4 separate regions of the Homo sapiens genome follow, and regions 1, 3 and 4 are each reported to be linked to region 2. Evidence: microRNA targets listed by miRTarBase, many of them from high-throughput screens and not tested one by one. Region 2 holds a microRNA gene; each other region holds the end of a gene's coding sequence.
What was found. The annotated mature microRNA hsa-miR-548w reads AAAAGUAACUGCGGUUUUUGCCU and lies in region 2 at 1,395-1,417, opposite strand. An mRNA with a match to its seed (bases 2 to 7 or 8) in the 3' UTR can be bound and repressed. Matches are read on the target gene's strand: a 7mer-m8 pairs with bases 2 to 8, a 7mer-A1 pairs with bases 2 to 7 and ends in A, and an 8mer does both.

Region 1: miRTarBase lists PPP1R18 as a target of hsa-miR-548w. Seed matches in the 3' UTR shown: 7mer-m8 at 1,764-1,770.
Region 3: miRTarBase lists CCNB1 as a target of hsa-miR-548w. Seed matches in the 3' UTR shown: 7mer-m8 at 4,535-4,541, 7mer-m8 at 4,507-4,513, 8mer at 4,332-4,339 and 7mer-m8 at 4,139-4,145.
Region 4: the mRNA of NECTIN3 is a reported target of hsa-miR-548w. Seed matches in the 3' UTR shown: 7mer-m8 at 4,207-4,213 and 7mer-A1 at 4,084-4,090.

What each region holds. Positions count from the first base shown.
Region 1 is chr6:30,673,180-30,678,384 of GRCh38, reverse strand. It overlaps PPP1R18 (protein phosphatase 1 regulatory subunit 18), which reads left to right. Exons shown (of 3, transcript NM_133471.4): 3 at 1,097-1,996. The coding sequence ends at 1,116. Among named protein-coding and RNA genes, the nearest start is that of DHX16, 2.8 kb to the right of the region's middle. RefSeq lists a silencer at 3,287-3,426 and an enhancer at 5,068-5,205.
Region 2 is chr16:26,021,458-26,026,662 of GRCh38, reverse strand. MIR548W (microRNA 548w) reads right to left here and starts at 1,426; the gene lies at 1,353-1,426. The region is part of intron 1 of HS3ST4 (heparan sulfate-glucosamine 3-sulfotransferase 4); the gene reads right to left.
Region 3 is chr5:69,177,076-69,182,250 of GRCh38, reverse strand. CCNB1 (cyclin B1) reads right to left here. Exons shown (of 9, transcript NM_031966.4): 8 at 4,902-5,012; 9 at 4,006-4,727. The coding sequence ends at 4,620. LOC112267932 (a long non-coding RNA gene) reads left to right here. Exons shown (of 2, transcript XR_002956215.2): 2 at 249-797. Among named protein-coding and RNA genes, the nearest start is that of CENPH, 9.9 kb to the left of the region's middle.
Region 4 is chr3:111,133,545-111,138,544 of GRCh38, reverse strand. It overlaps NECTIN3 (nectin cell adhesion molecule 3), which reads right to left. Exons shown (of 6, transcript NM_015480.3): 6 at 985-4,910. The coding sequence ends at 4,330. Among named protein-coding and RNA genes, the nearest start is that of NECTIN3, 64 kb to the right of the region's middle.

The sequences.
Region 1 (5,205 bases), not on the chromosome of region 2:
AAAAAAAATTAGCCAGGTGTGGCAGTGCGCAGCTGTGGTTCCAGGTACTTGGAAGGCTGAGGTGGGAGCATCGTTTGACCTCAGGAGTTGGAGGCTGCAGTGAACCAATATTGCACCACCCACTGCACTCCAGCCTGGGCAACAAAGGAAGACCTGTCTCAAAAGAAACAAACAGGCCAGGCACGGTGGCTCACGCCTGTAATCTCAGCACTTTGGGAGGCCGAGGCAGGTGGATCACTCAAGGTCAGAAGTTCAAGACCAGCCTGGCCAACATAGTGAAAACCCATCTCTACTAAAAATACAAAAATTAGCTAGGCATGGAGGTGGACACCTGTAATCCCTGCTACTCGGGAGTCTGAGGCAGGAGAATCACTTGAACCCGGGAAGCAGAGGTTGCAGTGAGCCGAGATGACGCCACTACACTCCAGCCTGGGTGACAGAGTGAAATTCTGTCTCAAAAAAACAGAAACCAAAAACTACCTCCTAGACTTGTAGAAAATATTAAGTAATTTTATTTATTTATTTATTTATTTATTTTGAGACAGCGTCTCCCTCTGTCGCCTGGACTGGAATGCAGTGGCACAACCTTGGCTCACTGCAACCTCTGCCTCCCAAATTCAAGCGATTCTTGTGCCTCAGCCTCTCTAGTAGCTGGGATTACAGATGTGTACCATCACACCTGGCTAGTTTTTATATTTTTAGTAGAGACAGGGTTTCCCCATGTTGGTCAGGCTGGTCTTGAACTCCTGACCTCAAGTGATCCTCCTGCCTCAGCCTCCCAAATTGCTTGGATTACAGGTGCTCCAGGCCAAGATTAAGTAATTTTTTGTGAAGCACCAAGAGCCACAGCTGGATATCATATTACTTAATCTCTCCTGGAGTTATGGTGAGATTAAACAGTTATAAGGATGCCTGGCACAGAGTCCGAGCTAAATGAGTGATGGATGTGGTTACTGGTGGTAACATGCTTTAGATATGGAAGATATTATAGGACTTCCTGCATGCCAACTGCCCTTCAATTTGTGTGGGGGGGAAGGGTGGGCAGAAGGCAGAGGCTCTCACTCATTCTCTAACATTATTGCCCCCTCTCCCACAGATGAGTCCTGCCGGCGGTGACCATCTTCCAACATAGGGATATACCTCCCTCCTTCTTATAACTGAAGATCCTGGAGCCCGGAAGATTCAGGGCAGACAGACCCTGATAATGAGCCTGGCAGGGAAGGGCAACCAACATCTTGTAACTTGCTTTCCCCACCCTGTTTCTGGGGGCAGAGCCAATTGCCCAATTTCTACCCTAATCCAAAGTCCCTGGTGTGGGTGGGGTTAAACGTGCTGGTGCATCCTAGGTCATCCAAGAGTGAGCGCCAAGTCCTGAGAAGGGGCACAGAACTCCCTGGAGGGTGGAGATGGAGCACCTGCCCCCCATGGCAGGGTACACTCTCCCCACAGCCTTCCTCCCCACCATCCCGTGGGGACTCTCGGGATTTAAGCACTCGTCTCTCTGGGAGGCCCAGACCCCACTCCATTTATAGGCACATCTCCTTCATTTCCTAGGTCACTGCCCCTTTGTTTACAGCTCCTGCCTCCTCCCTTGACCACAGCCTGGTTTACAAATTCCATCAGCTCCCAGCCCCACCTGCCAAAGTCCCAGGTTTACAAGCCACGCTTACTTGCTGTGTCTGCGTGGAATTCTCTCCTCTGTCCCCTCCAGTCTCCTCATTGGAGTGACCTGAAGGTGTGGCTTCCTCCACTTTTTCTCAGTATTACTTTGCCTTAGTTTTCCCCAAGAGGGAAGGCTGGAACTCTTAACTCTGTACCCCTTGATAGTTATTTAATTCTGTTTCTCCTAGTGGTTCACAATTGAACTGAATTGAGATGGTGTCGGGTGGCTAAGGAGACACCTCACCTCTCCTTCCCCATTGTGCCGCCTTTATCAATTGCCTGTTTTGTTTTGTTTGTTTTTTAACTTTCCATAATAAAATGGAGTTCTCTTCAACTCGTCTGCTTCTCCTTCTTTGGGAAAAAAAAAGGGTATGTGAGGGGAGGCTCTGGTGGCTGGGGGAGAGGAAAATGATGGGGGATGAACCAGGAACTCGGCACTGACATGTCAAAAGGGGTCTGGGAAGCTGCACGTGGGTTTCACGCAGGACAAGCAGGTGACATGAGAAAGGGCAGTTGAAGTGTCCACTAGACTGGAAGTGCCATGAGGGCTGACTACATCAGCTGGATTCACTGCAATATCCTGTACCTGTCAACTAGTAGACACGGAATTATTTCTAGAATGAATGACAACAAATGAATGAATAGAAGAAAAGGGTTAAAATATTACAGAGGACACTTTGAGTTGAAGGGTTCTAGTATTCAGAAGCCTGCTGCCATGAAGGCAGCTAGGTAGTGTATGACACAACCCATGTGGCTAATCCAGGGATACTTACTTAAAGAGCTGGGGCTACGAATACTAAATCTGAAATTGCTGCAAAATGAAGTAAGTATGTACAAGAGTCAGTTTCCTGGAAAAGGTTCCCCTCTGATAGACAATGGATTTTATATCGTTAAAGGCCTAAAGGCCGGGCACGGTGGCTCACGCCTGTGATCCCAGCACTTTGGGAGGCCGAGGCAGGCGGATCATAAGGTCAGGAGATTGAGACCATCCTGGCTAACACGGTGAAACCCCGTCTCTACTAAAAATACAAAAAATTAGCGGGGCATAGTGGTGGGCACCTGTAGTCCCAGCTACTCGGGAGGCTGAGGCAGGAGAATGGCATGAACCCGGGAGGTGGAGCTTGCAGTGAGCTGAGATTGCGCCATTACACTCCAGCCTGGGCAGCAGAGTGAGACTCCATCTCAAAAAAAAAAAAAAAGGTTTAAAAACCATCTTGATAGTGCATGGCTTTGGTGCCCATGTAGTTGATATTTGGAATTTTCCCATTTCAAAGAATATCTTATACAAATGTGGAACATCAATATTTTACTCATCAGGAAAATTTGTTTGTTTGTTGTTAGCTCTCCAGGCTAACAAAGATATGGTTGAATAGTTATAGTCCTTCTACCACTACAAGTTGCTCCTCTCAGACTGGTCAGAGGAGGCCCCACACCTTTACTATAAAACAAAATATATGAGACAAATTGAACTTAAGCATACGCCAAAGGTTTTCAATTTACTAGCAAGAGAACAAGCCAGGTGTCAAAAGACTCAGCCAGTTCAGAGAAGGTCTGGGTAGGGAAGGAAACAGAATGATTATATTAGTAGCCTGTTAGGTAAAGGTCTTAAAAAGTTTCCAGTTGTGACCCAGGAAAACAGAGTTAGGAAGCTCCGAGGTGCCAGGGGTGCTCACAGTCCATCTCAGAAACAGAAAACAATGCATTCAAGAGGTCAGGCCAGGTGTGGTGGCTCATGCCTGTAATCCTAACACTTTGGGATGCCAAGGCGGGTGGACTGCCTCATCTGAGGAGTTTGAGACCAGCCTGGGCAACATGATGAAACCCCGTCTCTACTAAAATACAAAAAATTAGCTGGACGTGGTGGCACGCACCTGTAGTCCCGCCTACTCAGGAGGCTGAGGCAGGAGAATTGCTTGAACCCAGGAGGTGGAGGCTGCAGTGAGCCAAGATCACGCCACTGCATTCCAGCCTGGGCGACAGAGTGAGACTCCGAGACTCCCTTTCCAAAAAAAAAAAAAAAAAAGTCAGTGATGTAGATCCACTTGTGGCTATTAATAAGAACAATGTTTCATTTCCTAACAGTAGTGCCTGGTAACTGCAATTAATCACAAAAGTATGATGCAGGATCAAACAAATCAGACAGCAGAGCATCGAGTAACAAATTCAGCTTTTTGTTTTGTTTGTTTTTTTTTTTTGAGCATAGTCTTGGTCTGTTGCCTAGGTTGGAGTGCCTGACCTCGGCTCACTGCAACCTCTGGCTCCTGGGCTCAAGAGATTCTCCTGTCTCAGGCCCAGTGCGGTGGCTCACGCCTGTAATCCCAGCACTTTGGGAGGCCGAGACGGGCGGATCATGAGGTCAGGAGTTTGAGACCAGCCTGACCAACATGGTAAAACCCCATCTGTATTAAAAATACAAAAACTAGCTGGGCGTGATGGCATGTGCTTGTCACACTTGTAATTCCAGCTACTCAGGAGGCTGAGGCAGGAGAATCACTTGAACCTGGGAGGCGGAAGTTGCAGTGAGCCGAGATCGTGCCATTGCACTCCAGTCTGGGCAACAGAGCGAGACTCTGTCTCCAAAAAAAAAAAAAAAAATTCTCCTGTCTCAGTCTCCAGAGTAGCTGGGACTACAGGTGCACACCTCCACACCTGGCTAATTTTTTGTAGAGATGGTGGGGTCTCACCCTGTTGCCCAGGCTGGTCTCAAACCCCTGGTCTCAAGATATCCTCCTGCCTCAGCCTCCCAAAGTGCTGGGATTACAGCAAGAGCCACTGCACCTGGCCTTGCTTACTTTTAAATAAGCAGCCACCAGTGATTTTCTCAAGCTGTTAAGCAAAAATGCAGAACACAGTTTGCCTGTTCCTTAGTTTGGAGATTTTGTCTTTAACAACTTTCCCCAGTTCCCCAGTTTCTTCCTGCCTAGAGGTCTTCCCTTATACCTGACCTGTCTTCACTCCTGCTGCAGGCAAACCAGTCCTAGCAACGGTCACTTTTTTGTTTGTTTGAGACAGAGACTTCCTCTGTTGCTCAGGCTGGAGTGCCGTGGTGGGATCTCGGCTCACTGCAAACTCTGCTTCCCATGTTCAAATGATTCTCCTGCCTCAGCCTCCCGAGTGGCTGGGACTACAGGCGCACACCACCACGCCAGGCTAATTTTTATATTTTTAGTAGAGACAGGGTTTCGCCATCTTGGCCAGGCTGGTCTCGAACTCCTGACCTCAGATAATCCGCCCGCCTTGGCCTCCCAAAGTGCTGGGATTACAGGCATGAGCCACCGCGCCCGGCCAACAATGCTAATATGTTTTATGAGCATGGACCCGATCTTCCAATCTGAAATAGAATTTCATTCCTCCCTTACTTTGTATAGTTTTTGGCTCTATAAAATTTCCATACTTTCTTTATTATGTATCCTGTCCCTCCCCCACCGCAAAATGTAAATTTGGTAAGGAACTTTTGATTTGTCCTCTGCTATATCCCAGGGACGGAAAGCAATGAGCACACATTAGGCATCCATTAAATTAATTTCACTTGTTGAATGAATG
Region 2 (5,205 bases):
TTCTGGGAAAGGTTTCCTTTCTCAGACACAGGGGTACCAAAAAGTGATGTCATATCTTGTTTTTCCATATTCTTGTTCTTCTGGAGAGAGTTGATTCTGGAGGTGATGCCTAATATTGCTGTATCTGTTTCATGACTATGGGGCAAAGCTAGCCTGCATGGAAAACTGACATAAGATAATAGCAAAGGAGAAAGATAGGAATAACCAGATCATTGGTGACATCATTGAGCTACTGAATTACCCAACCTTGGAGCCACTCTACCTTCCAAACTTCCTCCTAGGTGCAATAACGAACTATTCTTATGGTGTAAACTGATGCACCAGAGCTTTCTGTTGTGACCAAATGCATCCTTTCTGACTAAGCCCTAGTATATTGGCTTTTGAAATCCAAGCATTGGTCCTGGTTATCACCCTAAGGAGAAACTAGGGAGGTTTCTCAAAAACGATGTTGTTTCCGGCCGGGTGCGGTGGCTCACGCCTGTAATCCCAGCACTTTGGGAGGCTGAGGCAGGCAGATCACGAGGTCAAGAGATCAAGACCAGCTTGGCCAACATGGTAAAACCCTGTCTGTACTAAAAATACAAAAATTAGCTGGGCATGGTGGCACACGCCTGTAGTCCCAGCTACTTAGGAGGCTGAAGCAGGCAGACCACGAGATCAAGAGATCGAGACCAGCCTGGCCAACATGGTAAAACGCTGTCTCTACTAAAAATACAAAAATTAGCTGGGCATGGTGGCACGTGCATGTAGTCCCAGCTACTTGGGAGGCTGAGGCAGGAGAATTGTTTAAATCCGGGAGGCAGAGGTTACAGTGAGCCAAGATCACACCACTGCACTCCAGCCTGGCGACAGAATGAGACTCCATCTCAAAACAAAAGCAAAAACAAAGGAACAAAAAAAGGGTGGTGTTGTTGCTAAGCCTTCCAGAAGTTCCTTGGTAAACTGAATTCCCTGTTATTGCCTACGATCCCATGATGTGACATCAATCAATGTTGCAGAGGCATAGGAGCCTGCCCTAGCCTTTAGCATTTGCCAAATAGTTGACTTCATCAGCCCTCTGTACCCTCTAATAAAGAACCAGTGGCACATCACAAGCCAATCAAAAACTCCTTTGCGTGGCAGCGTTCCAGTTCTTCTGAGACCTAAACTCTGTTTCAAACAAAGTGGCTGGAGTTTCTGGGATTGCTGGCTTTTGTGGCCTGTAGATCTGAATAATCCCATAAAATATCCCTTCAAAAGAAGAGCACGAGTGTTCTGAGGAGCATGTTGGATATCAGATGTGAGACCCAGCGTACGAATGAAACGGTAATAGATGATGGAAAGTGCAAGGAGACTTGGCAATCAACCTATTAGATTGGTGCAAAAGTAATTGTGGGTTTTGCCATTATGTTGAAAGGCAAAAACCGCAGTTACTTTTGCACCAACCTAACTAGGCCCTATCTTAACATCAGGTGATGTTACAGTCCTTTCCTCTTGGAAAAATTTGTCCTTTTATTAAAAAGTGGCATGGCTTCTCATACATTAGAGGTATCTTAGGAATGTAATTTTTTATTCTCTGCAAATCTATATAAAAGCAACATGTACCCAACATGGTCTTAAGGGGATAGGATGAAATTTAGTAAAAAAAAAAAGTTGGAACTTTACCCATTAGTAACTTTACTAAGAATGAAATGGGAGAGGGGAGGTCCACAGAATAAAGATAAGTCATATTCCACAAACAAGTGCTTTGCTGGCCATGCAACTGTTAGCAGGTCACTTAGATAATCCAGCTTTTGGTTTACTCACCTAGCATGGGGGTGCTGGACTTGACCCACAGCCTGTGCTAGATTACACTCTGTCAATTTGGCTAAGGCTGGAATTACACAAAGGATAAAGATCATTAAAAGTGTTCTATAAACCATAAAGCACTACGTAAATGAGACTTTTTTTTGAGATGGAGTCTTGCTTTTGTCGCCCAGGCTGGAGGGCAGTGGCACGATCTTGGCTCACTGCAGTCTCTGCCTCCTGGGTTCATGCGATTCTCCTGCCTCAGCCTCCCGAGTAGCTGGGATTACAGGCACCTACCACCATGCCCTGCTAGTTTTTGTATTTTTAGTAGAGACAGGGTTTCACCATATTGGCCAGGCTGGTCTTGAACTCCTGACCTCAGAGGATCTGCCTGCCTCAGCCTCCTAAAGTGATGGGATTACAGGTGTAAGCTACTGCGCCCAGCCCTGAGACTTGTTTTAAAAGCAAATGAAGTGGCCAGAGGGTGCTCTTCCTACATGGACTCTTATGCCACAGTTCTAAAGGGAAGATGGATTATCAAACTGGGCCATGAGGCAGCATAACTAATGAACTATTATGATAAGCAGAGATCTCACTTACTGACATGTCCTGGATACCATGCACTGAGCTAAGTGCTTTACAGACATTGCCTTTTTTTTTTTTTTTTCCTTTTGAGACGGAGTCTCTCTCTGTTGCCTGGGCTGGAGTGCAGTGGTGTGATCTCTGCTCACTGCAACCTCCACCTCCGGGTTCAAGCGATTCTCCTGCTTCAGCCTCCCAAGTAGCTGGGATTACAGGCATGTGCCACCACATCAGCTAATTTTTGTATTTTTAGTAGAGATAGGGTTTCAACATGTTGGCCAGGCTGGTCTCAAACTCCCGATCTCAAGTGATACACCTGCCTCAGCCTCCCAAAGTGCTGGGATTACAGGCGTGAGCCACCGCACCCATTGACATTGTCTTTAATACCCAGAATGACCTCACAGAGGAAGCATTTTCTGATGAGGACACTGAGACTCAATCTCAATAATTCTTGAGGTCACACAACTTATAAGTGACAAGCCAGGGTGCAAACTCCTCTCTGTCTTGCAGCAAACATCATGTGCATTCTACCCCACTCTGCTATATCAACCAGAAAATCAGAGATAAAGACTAGGTAGGAGAGCTCCTTTATGCACATTAAATTATTGGCCAGGTGGGATGGCTCATGTCTATAAATCCCAGCACATTAGGAGGCTGAGACAAGAGGAACACTTGAGGCCGGGAGTTTGAGACCAGCCTGGCCAACATAACAAGGCCCCATCTCTACAAAAAAATAAAATAAAAAAATTAGCCAGGCCTGGTGGTGTGTGCCTCTAGTACTAGCTACTTGGGAGGTAGAGGTGGGAGGATCATTTGAGCTCAGGAGTTTGAGGTTGCAGTGGGCTATGATCATGCCATTGCACTCTAGCCTGGGTGACAGAGTGAGACCCTGTCTTAAAAAAAAAATTTAAGACAGTAAAAAATTGTTTTAATTCTATTCTTCTATCTATTTGAATAACCTTCTTCTTATCAGAGCAGTTGTGCCAATGTTTGAGGCAGAAATATATATATATATATAAAACATATATTTATGTATATATAGTCACCATACTTATACCTACAGATAAAAATAGTTTTATGGGAAAGTAAGTGGTACAAATGGTGCATCAAGATGACATAATCTGCAGCCATTAACAATGAAAATCATTACGATGCTTTAAAAACATGAAAAAATGCTTAAGAAATCCAGTGAGGTAAGGAAAAAAAAGAAATAGCAAATGGTATGTACACTGAAGTGAATACAGTTGGTTTTTTTTCTTCTTCTTTTTTTTGAGATGGAGTTTCACTCTTGTTTCCCCACCTGGAGTGCAATGGCATGACCTCGGCTCATTGCAACCTCCGCCTCCTGGATTCAAGAGATTCTCCTGCCTCAGCCTCCCCAGTAGCTGGGATTACAGGCATGCGCCACCACACCCAGCTAAGCCTGGCCAACATGATGAAACCCCATCTCTACTAAAAATACAGTTATTAAAGTTGTTAAAACAGTGTTTTCACAGAATAAAAAGCGCTGTAGGCCAGGTGTGGTATAATCTCAGCACATCGGGAGGCCAAGGCAGGAGGATTACTTGAGCAGCCCAGGAGTTTGAGACCAGCCTGGGCAACATAGCAAGACTCTCTTAAAAAAAAAAAAAAAGGAAGAAAATTCTGTGTGCAAAAAATGGACCTTTGAATTGACTAACAACCACAAGCCAGATTTTGACCTGCTGCCTGTCTGTACAGCCTGTAAATACAGACACACTCCTCCATTTCCACATAGTCTGGGACTACTTTCATGCTACAAAGGTAGAGCAGGTGGCCTCCTGGACCACAAAGCTTAAAATGTTTGCTATCTGCTCTTATAGAAAAAGACTGTGGGCCCTTGATTTAGAGCATGGGATTATGAATATGTCCCCTCCCCCAATTTTCAGTAAGTGTCCACTATGTAATTGCAGATGAAGAGTGAACCAATACAAATCACCCACCACTAACATTTTAGATTTAGATTTCCTTAATTTCCACTGAGATTCACCCAAAAGGTATTTACAATTTTGCTGAGAAGAGAACTTAGCTGGTTGCCATGGCTAATGCATAGAATCCTAACACTTTGGGAGGACGAGGCAGGAGGGTAGCTTGAGGCCAGGATTTTGAGATCAGCCTGGGCAACACAGTGAGACCCCATAGCTACAAAAAAATAATTTTAAAAAACTAGCCAGGCATGGTGACATGTGCCTGTAGTCCCAGCTACTTGGGAGGCTGAGGCAGGAAGATCACTGGAGCCCAGAAGTTCAAGGCTGCAGTGGACTAAGAAAGTGCCACTGCACTCCAGCCTGGGTGATGTAGCAAGACCCTGTCCCCCAAAAAATAATAATAGTAGGCTGGGTGTGATGGCTCACACCTGTAATTCCAGCACTTTGGGAAGCCAAGGTGGGCAGATCACGAGGTCAGGAGATCAATACCAGCCTGGCCAACATGGTGAAACCCCGTCGCTACTAAAAATACAAAAATTAGCTGGTTGTGGCAGCACGTGCCTGCAATCCCAGCTACTCAGGAGGCTGAGGCAGGAGAATCACTTGAACTCAGGAGGCGGAGGTTGCAGTGAGCTGAGATCGCACCACTGCACTCCAGCCTGGTGACGGAACTAGACTCTGTCTCAAAAATAATAATAATAATAATAATAGAACTTAGATTGGAAGTGCTTAGAGGTTGTGTTTGTATGGGAAGGGGCCGCATGTCTGATGTGTGAGCCTCGTACGCTGCTGGGCATCCTCACAGCCTCACATCTCTGTGGGTCTCTGTTGTATTCATGAATGACCACATCCTATCTTTTTCAGTGAAACTAAATAATAGGATGCAGTAATTGCTACCTCAAATATCTAC
Region 3 (5,175 bases), not on the chromosome of region 2:
AAAGATTTGTAAATGCACCAATCAGCACTGTGTAAAAACGCACCAATCAGTGCTCTGTGTCTAGCTAAAGGTTTGTAAACGCACCAATCAGCACTCTGTAAAAATGGACCAATCAGCACTCTGTAAAATGGACCAATCAGCAGGAAGTGGGCAGGGCGAAATAAGGGAATAAAAGCTGGCCACCTGTGCCAGCAGGGGCATGGGTTCTATTCTATGCTGTGGAATGTTTGTTGTTTTGCTCTTTGCAGTAAATCCTGCTGCTGCTCACTCTTTGGGTCTGCACTGCCTTTATGAGCTGTAACACTCACCGGAAGGTCTGCAGCTTCACTCCTGAAGCCAGCGAGACCATGAACCCACCGGGAGAAGAGAACAGTGCTGTCTTTATGAGCTGTAACACTGTAACACTCACTGCAAAGGTCGAAGGTCTGCGGCTTCACTCCTGAAGTCAGCGAGAACATGAACCCACCAGAAGGAAGAAACTCCGGATACACCTGAACATCAGAAAGAATAAACTCCGGACACACCATCTTTAAAAACTGTAACACTCACCGCGAGGGTCCGTGGCTTCATTCTTGAAGTCAACGAGACCAAGAACCCACCGGAAGGAACAAATTTCGGACACAATAGGAAATCTCTAAGGTGGAATACTATATCAAAAGAGAGAAGCCAAAATGATATCATACGCTGAAAATGTTAATGGAATTCCACAACCTTGCCTATTAAAAACTCCACAGTTTGAGCACAGCATGGAATCAAAATTTAAAAAATAAACATGACATAGTATTTTTATCATTTGATATTTTTTGCTATTTAATTGGTCTTTGTAGTTTCTATTACTGTGTGACATCAATTCAGTGACAGGAAACCATTTATTATCACTGATTATTTCAGAGATTCTAATATTATAAAATAGGTGAAACTTTTGGATTTAAGGACTAGAAAATTCTCCAATAAAAAACACTCAAGAAGGGCTGGGCACAGTGGCTCACACCTGTAATCTCAGCATTTTGGGGGGCCACTGCCGGGTGGATCATGAGGTCAGGAGATCGAGATCATCGTGGCTGGCACAGTGAAACCCTGTCTCTACTAAAAATACAAAAAATTAGCTGGGCGTGGTGGCGGGCACCCCTAGTCCCAGCTACTCGGGAGGCTGAGGCACGTGAATGGTGTGAACCCGGCGGGGCAGAGTTTGCAGTGAGCCGAGATCGCGCCACTGCACTCCAGCTTGGGCAACAGAGCTAGACTCTGTCTCAACAACAACAACAACAAAAATATTAAAGAAGGAAAACTGATGTCAACTGGATAAGATATTAAAAATAGAAGTGGGCGTCAGGCGCATTGGCTCACGTCTATAATCCCGGTGCTTTAAGAGGCTGAAGTGGGAGAGTCACTTGAGGCCAGGAGTTTGAGACCAGCTTGGACAACATAGTGAGACCCCATCTCTACACAGAAAAGGAAAAAATAAAATATTAGCCAAATGTGGTTGGCCCACCTGTAGTGATAGCTACCTAGAAAGCTGAGGTGGTAGGATAGCTGGAGTTCAGGGCAGCAGTGCACTATGATTGCACCACTGTACTCCATCCTGGGCGACAGAGAGACATTGTCTCTATTTAAAACTAAACAGGAGTGGGATACACTACTAGGGAGATGAAGAAAAAAATTTAAAGAAACAGAAGTGGGAAATATATCCCATTCACAATAACGACAAAAGGCAAAAGGCATAAATCCAACCATAAATTTAAGAAAGTTGCAGAATTATACAATTAAATTCCAACGTTATTGAAGGGCATGCAACAAGGATTGATAGTTTCTAGATGGTAAGATAATATGTCAGTCTATCCCAAGCTAGTACATAATGTATAGTCAAAATCTCAAAGGAGGGTCGGGCGCGGTGGGTCACGCCTGTAATCCCAGCACTTTGGGAGGCTGAGGCGGGCGGATCACCTGAGGTCAAAAGTTCGAGACCAAACTGCCAACGTGGTGAAACCCTGTCTCTACTAAAAATACAAAAAAATTAGCCAGGCATGGTGGCCCGTGCCTGTAGTCCCAGCTACTCCGGAGGCTGAGGCAGGAGAATCACTTGAACCAGGGAGGCAGAGGTTGCAGTGAGCTGAGATCGCACCACTGCACTCCAGCCTGGGCAACAGAACGAGACTCCCTCTCAAAAAACAAAACAACAACAACAAAACTCAAAGGAACTTTTTGGTAACTGTACACAATTTTAAAGTTTTTATAGAAAAGTGTTCAGTAGTACTCCCATATATTTGGTAAGCCTCATCTTAACTGATTAACTGGTAAAAACTATTGTATTATCACAGGAAAAAACAAGATCAAGGAAGAATAGATGGGCATTGAAGATATTTCAAGTTGGACAAGCAGGGTTTCAGTCATGGCACTGGCATAAACGGGTATCCATCTGTAAGAATTCTACTTTATACCACATATAAAAATCGCCTACTGAGGGCCGGGCGCGGTGGCTCACGCCTGTAATCCCAGCACTTTGGGAGGCCGAGGTGGGCGATCACGAAGTCTGGAGATTGAGACCATCCTGGCTAACACGGTGAAATCCCGTTTCTACTAAAAATACAAAAAATAAGCCGGGTATGCGCCTGTAATCCCAACTCCTTGGGAGGCTGAGGCAGGAGAATCACTTGAACCTGGGAGGCGGAGGTTGCAAGTGAGCTGAGATCATGCCACTGCACTTCAGCCTGGGTGACAGTGTGAGCCTCCGTCTCAAAAAAAAAAAAAAAAAAGTTAACGTGGCAAATATCTTTTGCCAGTTGGAGTCATAGAAATAAAAGACTGATTACCTTCAGTTTTAATAATGCAGAGAAAACTGGCACCTTTTGACTCCGTCTCAAAAAAAAAAAGTTAAAATGGCAAATATTTTTTGCCAGTTGGAGTCATAGAAATAAAAGACTGATTACCTTCAGTTTTAATAATGCAGAGAAAACAGGCACTTTTGTATGTCATCTGGTTCTATCAAAATTTAAAATGCATGTTTGCTTTAGGGAACCTAGAATACACACAAAAAAGCATGGTATAAAACAGTAAATTGGCCAGGTGTGGTGGCTCACGCCTTTAATCCCAGCACTTTGGGAAGCTGAGGCGGGTGGATCACCTGAGGTCGGGTGTTCAAGACCAGCCTGACCAACATGGTGAAACTGCGTCTCTACTAAAAATACAAAATTAGCCGGGCGCGGTGGCGCATGCCTGTAATCTCAGCTACTCAGGAGGCTGAGGCAGGAGAATCGCTTGAACCTGGGAGGCAGAGGTTGCAGTGAGCTGAGATAGCGCCATTGCACTCCAGCCTGACGACAGAGTGAGACTCTTGTCTCAAAAAAAAAAAAAAAAACAAAAACAAAAGCCCCAAAAAACAGTATTATCAACAAAATTGTAGGGGCAAAAAGAAAAAGCAATCTGAACGAACAGGGGAAATGGTTGAATCCATTAGTCATGTGTTGCTTAAGGACTGGGATATGGTTTGAGAAACCTATCATTAGGTGATTTTATTGTTCAAACATCAGTGTACTCACACAAATCTAGATGGCATACCCTCCTGCACTCCTAGGCTATATAGTATAGGTTATAGCTCCTAGGCTACAAATCTATACACCATATTATTGAATACTGCAGGCAATTATAACACAAGTCAGTATTTGTGTATCTAGGCACAAGAAGAGGTACAGTAAAAATATGGCATCATAATCTTATGGGACCACCATTGTATCTGTAATCTATCTTTGACCAAAATGTTCATGGGGCACATGACTATTTATCTGTACCATGTAATATAATGCACAAATACAGGTAGGCTTATGTATGTTGAAAGTAATTGTTATGTATATAGAATGAACCACATTTTTAAAAAACCCATAAAAATTCATATGCACATCTGTATTTATACAAGGCATGAAGGATAAATCCATAATTGATGTCCTTCAGGTGGGTGGGATTTAGAAAGAGCCTAAGGAAGCAGTAAACTAACTTTTTAAAAAAGATACCTTTTGTATTTGAGTATTGTTTTATTAACCAAAACACAAAACCAAAATGAAAACTGGCTTAGAATATAAAATTCTCATTTTTCAAAGTGAAAGTTTGAAGATACTAGCTAAAGTTGATAACTTAAATAGTGGTAAAAGTAAATAACTTAGAATTATGGCAGCAATCACAAGAAGAAACAGAAAACAGGGGGACTAGGGATTCGGTGGTAGACTTTTACTTTAAAATAGAGCTATGCAGCAGATTCTCCATGACTTGGCTTACATGCAGTATGTCCTATGGAAGTAAAATTTTCAAATACCTCCATCACCTTCAGTAACTCATATTAATAAAGTAAAAGCCAGGTATATAAAACAAGAACCCAGTATATAAACATATACATCAATTGGATCCCCAGGTAAACCAAAAGGAGTTTTTAAAAATATCCCCACCATACCTTTTAAGACAACTTTTCCGCTACCCTACAGTAGGAAGTAACCACATTCAAATTAGTTAAGCTATAAAAAAGTAAAAGGGGCCACAAGCTTTATTAAAAGTAAATGCAACAGTAATATGTACAGATGGCACATGGTGCCAATTTTATTTGTAAATATAGTACTCCAACTCAAGTTTACAAGTTACACCTTTGCCACAGCCTTGGCTAAATCTTGAACTAGTGCAGAATTCAGCTGTGGTAGAGTGCTGATCTTAGCATGCTTCGATGTGGCATACTTGTTCTTGACAGTCTGGAAGACAAAAAGATAGCAATTAAAGAGGCAAAAGAAAAAAAATCACAAGATGCAATGATACAGGTATTCATTTAAAACATTAACTCATTAAAAATAAACCAGGCATTTGCAGGCATTAAGTTTGAATTATTACACTTTTCAGCATCTTACAATGCCACTATATTGACTCACCATGTGCTTTGTAAGTCCTTGATTTACCATGACTACATTCTTAGCCAGGTGCTGCATAACTGGAAGAAGAGATTCTTCAGTATATGACAGGTAATGTTGTAGAGTTGGTGTCTAAGGCAACAAGTTAATGTTAAAAATGCTCAAATCAATAATGATTTTCATAAAGTTTCTAGATGTTAGATGTTATTCAGGAGTGGAAAAGAGATGGGTACTGTATAATTAATATAACTGAAATTTAAGACAAAGCTAAAGACTCCTTTCCTAGGTGCTCTCA
Region 4 (5,000 bases), not on the chromosome of region 2:
AATTTTGGTTTCAAGCTCTTGATAAAAACCTAACACTACTCAAGTCAAAGTGTCAAGTCAAAGTATATATGTACTTTACAAAAAAGCAGATGACTGGACTATAACAGAAAAAAAACCCAGAAATATATAAACAGAAAAGCATTTTTAAAAACAGATGAAAGTTGGTTTACTGTGCAAACCCCTCAAAGACTGTTTCATGCATGAATTTTTTTTATTGGGATACCAAGAAGGGAACAAAACAACCCAGTCTAACTGTGTATTATCAAAGAAAAACCCTGGTCAAAAATAGTTTAAAAAATACAATTTAAAAAGCCAGAAATAGGAAACAAAGTGATGCATCACAAGGTGATTATAAACAATTCAAAGCAATGGCATTTCTAATCAAAGTAGCTCACAAAAAGTAGTAAGTAAAAAACACTAAATGTCAACTTAAGAAATACCTTATGAAATGTGTTAATTCCAAATTGAAAGCCAATATATAAAATTTGGCTTATGCCAAAGTAATAGCAAAAACATATAAAATGGGTTTTAACAGCTAGGGCTACAGAGATAAGATAATTTATAACTATGGAGAATGTTAATTCATGATTGGGAATTAAATGGTTAATCAAAAATAAAATATTATAGTTAATGCATGCTGGGCTTAATACCTAGGTGATGGGTTTGTGTAGTAAACCACCATGGCACATTACCTGTGTAACAAACCTGTACATGCACCCCTGAACTTAAAAGTGGAAGAAAAAAACCCAACCACCAAAAAAAAAAAAAAAAAAAAGGAAAAAATTTTACAGTGGCCAACATGCCAACTATCCTCAATCTGATATTACAGTCTTGTTTTAGGAAAACAGGTTTCTGATTCCCACAAATCATTAATTACATTTTGATAATTAAAATAAACTAGGTTACACACGCACATACACACACACTTTAGTAAATACGAGGACAAAGATGGTAACATAGAGCAATGAACTTATTACAGAAATATGCCTCTAAAGAACTTTTTTAACTTTTATTTAAAGATTTCATGCATGGCTATTGGGGCTAACACCTAATACACAGGTTGGTTAAAAAAGAAAAAACAAAACAAAACAAAACAAAACAAAAAACACCAAACACAACAAAACCAAAACTTAGCGCGGGTACAAACTAAAACCCAAACACAAACACAATATACAAAAAATTTGAGAAAGGAGCTGTTTATGAAGGATGCATTTTCTAATTAACAAGTAAACAGGAAAGACAATTCAATCTACAATCTACTCTCCTATTAGAATTAAAAATTCAAAATGGGTACCATTTATTCCTTTCTTATATTTTACATTGATTACTTTCATACATAAACTTCTTACTTGTTCATATACTGTGTTTTAGCAGTATTTATCAAAAACTCAAATCAGATGTTTTCACATATAAAATGACTACATTTCTCTCAATTTCTGTACTTATACACTGTACTCCTACAGCTCCTTAATGCAAAATATTTAGCCGTGGGTTATCTTATAAAACTTTCCTGTATATGGCTATTAGAAGCAACACTTACTACTGAAAACCTTAATAGTTTCCTCAATATTAGAGTTAGCAAATAGAACCCTACTAGGCACGTGGTAAAATACTAAATCTTTCAACTCTAAAGCACTTCTCAAATATCACTTTTAAAGTTAACCCCGAGCCTACTTTAGTTTCAATGTATTTTAATAAAAAATGGCAGAAAAATAAGAGTTGCATTCATCTTCATTATATCATTGAAATATTTTAACCAGTATGAAAGAAAACTCTCAAGTGAATTTACAAAATGCTAAAACAGTTCAAACCATATGAAAGAAATAAATATAAATATGGCCAAAAATAGTACAAATATTCATTTTTTTTCACGATAGTAGAATTTTCATATATACCTGTCAAGTAGTTATGAATATCACTGGTATTCAAAAACTAATTTAACAATGTCTTTATTTAATGACTATTCATGTTTTCAAACAAGTCTCTATGTACAGTAAATATACATAAAGTTCTAATAAACAACAGTGCAATGCTTCCCAAAGTCTTAAGCACTAGTATCAGATTCTTACAACACAGAAACCTTTTAGTTTGCCAAATGATTGGATTAAGGATACAGAATATGTCAAATACTCACTTGTGGCTTTCCAGGTCACCCTCTCCCGCCAAACAAACACAAAAGAAACAAACAAAAAAACCTAATCGCACAAATAACCACAATGTAAAAGGAAGTTCATAATCAGTATTTATATTTTTGAAATATATTTCTTAAAATACACTGCTAATTTCCTTCAGATTATACTCCAGTTGAGATTTATATAGAATCCTAAATGTGATTATTCTGTTCAGATCCATACAGTATTTCAAACCATTATTTTAAAAGATGAAATTTTGATTTTAAAAAAAGCCATAGTTTTACATCTTTCATGGGGAGAAATTTTAGACCCATCTTTCTTCTGGCCACCTCATCGTTTAAATTAAAAATAAAGTCACATCAATCACAGTGTTTTATCAAAAAGTTTTCTTCCAAAAACTTGCACTAAAAAGTTGTAATATTTGTATATAAGTGATTAACCATATTAAAACCCAGACATTTGTAAGAAGATATAAGTGAACTTTATTTATCTGTATCCTTAACCTGATACTACAGCCTTATAATAAGTATTACTTTTGGGAAGAGAAATAAAAGAGGTTTCTAATTTCCACAAAATAGTGCTAGTTAAAATGAAGAAAACTAGTTTATAATCCTTCAGAATAAAGCTTTCACTATTTGCAAGATACCATGAACATGTTAGAATTTTGCCCCCTAAATGTTTTAGATTTGATGAATATTGAGAAAGGGCTGGTTGGGAGGGTTTAAAAAGTACCTACTACTTTGCCTTTTTATTAACAAAATAATATATTTAATTTATGATTCTCCTACTAACTTCCACTTCATTTCACTGGCAAAATGGTCACTTTTTCAAATGACTTAGCAATAGAAAAACTATCCTTTCAGCTTCAAAATAGTTGTCACAATAATTTTGTAAGCCTCCACTGTAGAAGCAATTTAATTACCTCACAAACAAAAAGCACATTTGAAGTTTAGGTAACATTTCTTTCTCAAAAGATAAATGATTCAGAAGGAATATATGTAATTATGTAAAAAAACAAAAACAAAAAACCTCATGTTTCCAGTTTTAATCGTAAAAACAGAAATCTTAAAACACATACATACACTTAGGAGGAAAAAGGAGATGAATGCCAATGTCCATTAGCAAGTGTTACCGACTAATTCTATAATCTAGTTTTTTCTAGTTATATCCAAAGTTCCAAGTTTACTCTAAAATTTTCTTTCTGTACATTTACCCATTTGAACAACATCAACATTAAATAACTAAAACAAGATGGTCCATAAAATTCTTTCTATAGATTGTTGGCTGAAAGTCTCATTTCTAAAACTAGTACTTCAGTATTCCGAAATGCTCTCTCTGCGTCTTTTCATTTCTATTAGTATGTTTAGGACATAAAGCATTAAAATAAGGCTACTGCTAATGTACCAAAATCCATGTTCCAGAAAGGAAAAAAAAAAACTAATAATTATCATGTTTGAAAGGTATGTATTTTATTACTCTTGCAGGTATTTTGGACAAAAATATTGACCAGCTAATTATGCTCTTCCACACATCATGTTCACTGAGTTTACTACCACAGTTTTAGTGCAACAAAATATCTTTGAAAAGCCACTCTACAGTAATTATGGCAAGGCTCATTAATATGCAGAGGTAAAGATTTCATTTGTATAGAAACTTAGAAAATAATGTTTGAAAAGGAAAGCCATTCCATCAGGCTAAATATTTTTTGTATATTAAAAAATATATATAAATATTTCTTGAATTAGTTTTATAGTCAATTTTGATGCAGTGTCATTGAGTGGTGATAAATTTTGAGAGGTATATGTTAAACAAACATCATACTTGAGATTATAGTCTTAGGTAAACATTTAATACACAATGTCAAGGTAGTTCCCTTTTTAAAAAATTTTTGTACCAAGTAAGTCATACATTTAATGTTGACATTTCTTCTTACCTGTGTGCCTCACACCAATAAAGTACTCTGCATTAAAATTTAAATCTTGAGACAGTAGTACAGCATTGAAAAAAAATTGTAAAGCAGCTTAGATACACTGAACTCAGATTTTACATTTTCATTTGTCAGATTAGAATATAAAAAGTAAGCTTGAAAATCAACTTGAAAAAGCTTATTCTTCCTCAAGAAAAAGTATGAACAATCTGAAAATGATCAACTAGTGTGAATGAACATTGTACATAGTTAAGTCACATTCAGTGGTTGCTAAACATACCACTCCCTCCTGGAAATTACGGAACCATCTACATGTGAAACTAAGTCATCTTCGTTTTCATCATAATGTTCATCACTGACAAACTTCATTCCCATTTTTAGATCTTCATAATAATCCATTGGTCTTTCAAACCTATTGAGATTTTCTACATTGTTCCACTGAGTTTTTTCAGGCTCTTCTAAATAGTCTTTACGTATTAGATTGTTCACTGGATTTTTGTTTTCTTTTTTTACACTGTCTGGGTAAGAATCAAGCTCATCTTGTTGAAGAACATCTATTTGTGATTCTTTTTGCATATCTGATGGTGGAATGTAGTTCTTGGCAAAGTAGTCTCCACGAAACGTCCGTCTTCTCCTATAGCAGAATATTCCAGCCAAAACACTTACAAGTACTATGAAGAGAGCCCCACCCACTACACTAGCAATGATCGTGGCAATTGTGTCATCCTTAATTGTTGCCAAAGTTGACAATGGGAAGGGCAATTTTTTAGGTTCTGTTGCTAGATCCTCGATGTCAGCAGTTGAGGGATGCCACTGAATTGTAGGCTGAAGGGTGGTAGTAGTAGGAGGATCTAATGGAAACAGTAAAGATAGAGAAGACACAGAAAGGCAAAGAATGTCAATGCAGGCTGATTCAGCAGCAAGTTGACAAGACAGCACAG